Linked DNA regions of Homo sapiens. The protein of the gene in region 2 interacts with the protein of the main gene of each other region in a pairwise test. Each region holds a gene or a part of one and is shown on either strand. Other genes may lie near its edges. The genes, in order: EFHC2 and CPNE7.

Region 1 (3,826 bases), on a different chromosome or scaffold from region 2:
GACTGTTATGTACATACAGGTCTATAAAGAAATCAAGATTATAATTTTGTAACTGCCTATATTTAAGCCCAATCATGTCAGTCAGTAAAAGAACCTAATTTTTAAGTCTTGTATAAAATTATATCTTAGGTTATATTTTTACTCATAATGCTTTGTCATATAGTTTTAGTAGCTTTATTATGTAACATTGTCAATACATTTTGATGTTGAAAACAGCATTAATTACGAGTTTACAACCTTTATTTAAATTAAATCATCTTAGCCTACTTTTTGAAAAAGTAAATTCCATCTTAGATATAAACAGAAATAACTTGAATTATTTAACATGTTTATATTATGCTGACTGAAAAGTTTTTTGAATGTATGGAAAGGAAAGAAAGGTAAGCTAAGTTTAACTATCTGTTTTGGGTTTTTTTTCCCTCAAAAAAGCTGGTAAAAAGTCCTTTTCAGTTTTTAATAGGGGAGAAAACTACTTTTGTTCATACCATATACCATATATCATTCCTCAATAGCACCCTCTATAATAGAAACTATAGAGAACTTTTAGGCCTACTTGGATAAGGTAAAAAGGAAAAATAAATCAAGTAGAAAATTTTACCATAAAACAACCTGAAGTTTCCTCTTCTACATTCCCACTTGCTTTAGGGTTGATAACCCTTTGTGAGAAAGGGAAAGAGTAGGTAAATAAGTTGGCTGAAATCAAGAGATCCACAGAAAACTACCATTTTTTACTTTAAAAAGACAATTATTATTGGATTATTATAGCTACAATATTCTCATTCCAGTTGAAAATGAAATTGATATGTGCTTATTTTGAGTTTAACCCAGAATTATTTATGGGAATTTATTTATTTCACATAAATTCGGAACTGGCCATATGGCAGGTGTGTGTTTAACTTTATAAGAAATTACCATTTCGCATTCCCACCAGCAATGAGTGAGAATTCCTGTTATTTCAAATCCATGTGAGCAATTGGTATTGTGTTTTGGATTTTAGCCATTTTAATAGGTATACAGTGGTATCTCATCTTGATTTTAATTCTTATTTCCCTAATAGCTATAATGTTGAACATCTTTTTATGTAATTACATATTTATTATCACAGATTGTGCTAATGTACCATGGGCTATAGATATAGTTTTTATGCAGGAGTTCTCTAAGACCTCAAAATCATTTCAAAGACTCCTCCAGGGTGAAAAGATTGAGATTTGAGGTGATGAAAATGTTCTGAAACTAGTTAGAGGTGTTAGTTGTTGCACAACAGTGTGAATGTACCAAGTACCACTGAATTGTATACTTTTAAATAGTTAGTGGTTAATTTCATGTTACATGAAATTTACCTCAAAAAATTTAAAAATATACATTAAGAAAGGCTGACAAGGCTCTTTGAAGGGTGAGAGATGAGATCTGACCTTGAAAGAAGCTGAAGATCTAAATTTAAATAAGAATTGCCCAGTCTGGACAATACAGTGAGACCGCATCTCTACAAATAATAATTTAAAAAATTAGCTGGGTATGGTGGTGCATGTCTGTAGTCCTAGCTACTGTGGCAACAGAGGTGGGAGGATGTCTTGAGCCCGAGAGGTTGAGGCTGCGTGCAGTGAACTGTGAGCTGTGATCCTGCCACTGCACCCCAGCCTGGGAGAAAGAGCAAGACCCTATCGCAAAAAAAAAAAGATGGAGATGGCTCGAATGAGTGTTTTTCAAACACTGATTGCACAACCACAGTAATAGGCATATTTTAGTGCAGGCCAGTTCACATACATACACAAGCACACACAGGAAGGACAAAAAGGTCCGTGCAACACTTAACTCCTCTCAAGCATAATACACTCTAATTCTTCATTCTACCCCACTCTCTTCTTTTTCTTTTTTCCTTTTCAAAAAAAAAAAAAGCTGGTCATGATTCATTAAATTCCTTTTTTTTTTATTGCTGCAAATTCAAATATGTTTTCTTTTTTCTTAAGGAGGACTTTGCTTCACTACAAATTAGATGATGGGCTATTTACAGCAAACCCTCCTAAGATGGTGGCAAGGTAGCTTCATTAAAAGCAGAAAGAGCGGCCAGGCGCGGTGGCTCACGCCTGTAATCCCAGCACTTTGGGAGGCTGAGGCGGGTGGATCAACTGAGGTCAGGAGTTCGAGACCAGCCTGATCAACATGGTAAAACCCCAATTCTACTCAAAATACAAAAATTAGCCAGGCGTGGTGGCACACACCTGTAATCCCAGCTACTCAGGAGGCTGAGGCAGGAGAATCGATTGAACCTGGGAGGCAGAGGTTGCAGTGAGCCGAGATGGCGCCATTGCGCTCCAGCCTGGGTGACAGAGCGAGACTCCATCTCCAAAAAAAAAAAGCAGAAAGAGTGAGCTCTTCATCATTCATTAGAGACACTCAGGATCAGGATGGGCCACACAACCATCTGTCCAAAATACTGCAGAAAGGATTTTTGGCTTTGGCTGGAAATGTCCCTTTTAATTTTAATATTTTCAATTTTGATAATATGCCCAAGATTCTCTTGCTCAATACAAGTTCAGCATGGAAATTGTTGGAAAAAAGATACAGTGTATCTAGAATTTAGTTGTGATATTTCCCTAAGGTTTTCAACTCATATCAAAATAATTGTAATGTCATCAGAGGTACAAATGTTCATATTTTAGAAGGCACCATACTTCTTGTATTTGAGAGAGAGAAATACAGGTTGCGTATCACCTAGCCGTGGACAGAAATCAATCTATTGCTTTTGACTGACCACTGGCAGCTAAGTAAGGGGCACATAAGTTCCTTTTCAATTCTATGGAAAAGCAATAAAAGTTAGCTGTGTTATAATTTTAAATCCAAACAGCCAAGTAATTATGCTATCTACAGGAGGCCAAGGTTTTTCACTTGGTAATTTAATTCAGCAAGCAGGGGAGGGGGGAAGGGCAAGACTAAAAGGCCAGATATGGCTTTACTGACTTTCTAACCATTCTATGCCAGAGAACATCCAATCTTTTAACTAAGTACAAGTTTTTAAAATATTAATTTGTGGGCAACACACAGTACATTTAGTACCAAGGCTAGTGTAACAATTTTTTAAATGTAGTCACCTAATTTTGGCATATACTAGGATACTCAATAAATAAATACTGATTTGTTGAATGAGTCCAAGGTACTGTCATTCTCTAGTACACACGCACATACACACATGCACGCACACACTCCCATTGTTCTCAGGCATAAAGTAAATAAATGTTTTAAATATTCATGAGTCTAGAAATAGACCCACACGTAGCTGGATGCTTGATTTTTGACAAAGTGGCTCTGCAGAGACATGGAGAAAGAGTGATCTTTTCCAAAAATTATTCATCAAAAACATCATTAAGAGAAGGAAAAGGCCAATCACAGACAAGAAGATACCCAAAATTTATATAGAACTTCTACAAATCACTAAGAAATAGGCAGACAACCCAGTAAACATTAGACAAGAGATAAGTAAGTACTACACAAAAAAGTAGTGACCAATAAATGGTCATACAAATAAAGCCAGGCACGGTGGCTCACGCCTGTAATCCCAGCACTTTGGGAGGCTGAGGCGGGCGGATCGCCTGAAGTCAGGAGTTCAAGACCAGCCTGGCCAACATGGTGAAACCCCGTCTCTACTAAAAATTAAAAAAAAAAAAATTAGCCAGGCATGATGGCGCATGCCTGTAATTCCAGCTACTCGGGAGGCTGAGGCAGGAGAATCGCTTGAAGCCAGAAGGCGGAGGTTGCAGTGAGCCGAGATTGCACCACTGCACTCCAGCCTGGGCAACAGAGCAAGACTCCGTCTAAAAAAAAAAGCAGT
Region 2 (2,821 bases):
TGGCCTCAGACCTCCCATCCAGGCACTGTGAGCTCATCAGTAAAATGTAGACTTCGTAGCACCCCCTCCACAGCCCTCCGTGAGACTCGTGGAGATTTCCTGAGCTGGGCACAGGAGGCCCAGAGTGCCCGCCACGGAGGGGGCTCCTGACCCACTGTTGTTCGTGATGTTTGTGATGTAGGCATCACACTCTGAAGGCGGTTCTAGGAAGCTCTGACGCACGGAGGCACTCTGGGCTGTCTGGGGGCCCGTGGGTTGCAGGGCGCATGTGGGCCATGGCAGGTGTGGTGTTGCTGATGCCTTTCCTGTGCCCCCAGCAATACTACATCCTGCTGATCCTGACGGACGGCGTGGTGACCGACATGGCCGACACACGGGAGGCCATTGTGCGTGCCTCACGCCTGCCCATGTCCATCATCATCGTGGGCGTGGGCAACGCCGACTTCACCGACATGCAGGTCCTGGACGGCGACGACGGCGTCCTGCGCTCCCCACGGGGTGAGCCCGCGCTCCGGGACATCGTACAGTTCGTGCCCTTCCGGGAGCTCAAGAACGTGAGTGTCCTGGAGGGGCTCCGTCAAGGCCGGCTTGGGGGTCCCTGTTCATGTCACTGCCCAAGACCTTCCCAGGCCAGGCTCACGCCAGTGGATGTGGCAGGTCCCTTCTTGTGTCTGGGGGATCCTGGGCTGTTCCCCCCAGTCAAGAGCAGTATCTGAAGCCAGGACTTTGAGCACCTGAAACACCCTCCACCGTTTTGAAACTTGTCGAATCTACACAAAAGCAGAGAACAGCACAAGGGGCTCCTGGGATCCACCACGCGGCTTCCCCCGTTGCTGCCAACCTCTGCGACCCGGCGAGACACGCACAGCACACACGTGAGGTTCTACCCGCCGAGACACACACAGCACACACGTGAGGTTCTACCCGGTGAGACGCACAGCACACACGTGAGGTTCTACCAGGCAAGACACACATGTCACACATGAGGCCCTACAGCAAGACGTGCATGCCACATAGATGTGAAGTTCTACACAGCAAGACACCACAGACATGCATGAAGACACGGACACGTGACATTCTACGCAGTGAAACATGCATATTACAGACACATGAAGCTCTGCAGTGAGTCACATCACACAGACACGCTCAGGCTTTGCCGGGGAAGTGTGGGTGGGGCCTGGACCATGGAGGTGGCCTCGCCTCCCGTGTCAGCACTTTTCATCTCCGTGCTTGGGGGGCTGGAAAGACCCACGTGCAGCCTCATGTGGCCGACATCCTCAGCAAGTCTTGCCCGGCACCCAGGTGAGCCTCTGGTGGGGGTGGGTAGTCACCACTCGGCTCTGGAGGATGAGGCCTGGGCCATAATCCAGTTGCAGGGACGGATGATCTCCATCTCGAAGGTCCCAGAGGTAACTGCGTTGTCCCATCCTCCAGGCATCCCCTGCGGCGCTGGCCAAGTGCGTGCTGGCCGAGGTCCCGAAGCAGGTGGTGGAGTACTACAGCCACAGAGGCCTGCCCCCGAGAAGCCTGGGTGTCCCTGCCGGAGAGGCCAGCCCAGGCTGCACACCGTGAAGATGTGGAGGGCGTAGGGTGGGGGCAGTGAGGAATGGGTCCGTACAGCCTCTGTCTGCAACATGCTTGGGGTCCCTTAAGCTCCCTCCGACCTCCCAGAAGCCTCCAGTCCCCACCAGGCCCCACTCCCAGTCCTCCTGGGATCCTGCTGGCTTGGGCCCGGCTCTGGGGCCCCCAAGGCCGAAGGGTGACAAAATACAGGCCCCCATGCCTGGCCCTGCCTGAGCCAGGTGGGTGGAGGGAGGGAGATCATGAGGGACTTGGAGGGAGCTGGGAGTTCATCCACGGGAGACCCTGCCCCGATGAGAAGGGGCAGGGACTGGGGGCTCTGCTTTGCGTCTAACCTTTGTGGGGGAGGGCCAGCAAGGCAGTCCCCCCACGCCCGAGAAAGCCTGGGGGACCCAGACACCTGTCCCCACAGTCAAAGCCTGGGGACCCAGACATCCTGTCCCCACAGTCAGCCTCCTGTCCCTGCTGGTGCCCCCACACCCACCTACCCTGTGCTTTTTGCCGTCGGGCCTCTGCACCTGGGTCCATGGGGTCTGCGGGGTCTGCGGGGTCTGCCTGGCCTGTGGGTTCTGCCGGTGGGGCTTCAGGAGTAATAAAGTGTCACCCTATCCTTGTAGTTCTCTTGTGCCTTCAGTCCCTTCCCCAACCCCCCAGAGGGCTGGGCCTGGCTTCCAAAGTGCCCACATCTGAGGCAGGGGCTCTCCCAGGCCCAGCACACCAGGATCCTCCCTGGACTGAATGGGATGCGGGATGCACAGGCTGCCAGGGGCAGAGAGCGGGGATCCGCACCATGGCTGCCTCCACCCGCGAAGGAGCTCCACTCGGCTTCCTGGGACTCCCAGGCCTGAAACCCAGTGAGTGAGGACTGTGGACGTGATGCAGGGGTGCCAGGAGCCTCCCACATGGCCTGCACCGCAGGGAGCTGGGCTGGAGGGTGAAGCCTCCATGTGATGTTCGTGGAGCCGGGGCATCTCCCACCTGCTGGGACCTCCTCGCCCTGAGTTTGAGATTTCCCCTGAATGATCTTGCCTGAGAAAAACAAATTGTCCTAACCCTGAATCCAGGCCCACCCATCCCCACATCGGTCCATCCACCCACCCATCCGTCCACCCATCGCCCTGCCCACCCATCCGTCCACCCATCCCCCCGCCCACCCATCCGTCCACCCATCCCCCCGCCCACCCATCTGTCCACCCATCCCCCCGCCCACCCATCTGTCCACCCATCCGTCCATCCATCC

Evidence for each region.
Region 1: the proteins of CPNE7 (region 2) and EFHC2 interact in binary tests that used the Homo sapiens proteins (3 or more experiments, as listed by UniProt).

Annotation. Positions count from the first base shown.
Region 1 is NC_000023.11:44,336,847-44,340,672, forward strand, and holds part of EFHC2 (EF-hand domain-containing family member C2), read right to left. Parts: intron 1-3,826. UniProt on the Homo sapiens protein: Microtubule inner protein (MIP) part of the dynein-decorated doublet microtubules (DMTs) in cilia axoneme, which is required for motile cilia beating.
Region 2 is NC_000016.10:89,595,050-89,597,870, forward strand, and holds the end of CPNE7 (copine-7), read left to right. Parts: intron 1-317; coding exon 318-554; intron 555-781; coding exon of another isoform or gene 782-875; intron 876-1,434; coding exon 1,435-1,572; coding exon of another isoform or gene 1,573-1,589; 3' UTR 1,590-2,197; downstream 2,198-2,821. UniProt on the Homo sapiens protein: Calcium-dependent phospholipid-binding protein that may play a role in calcium-mediated intracellular processes.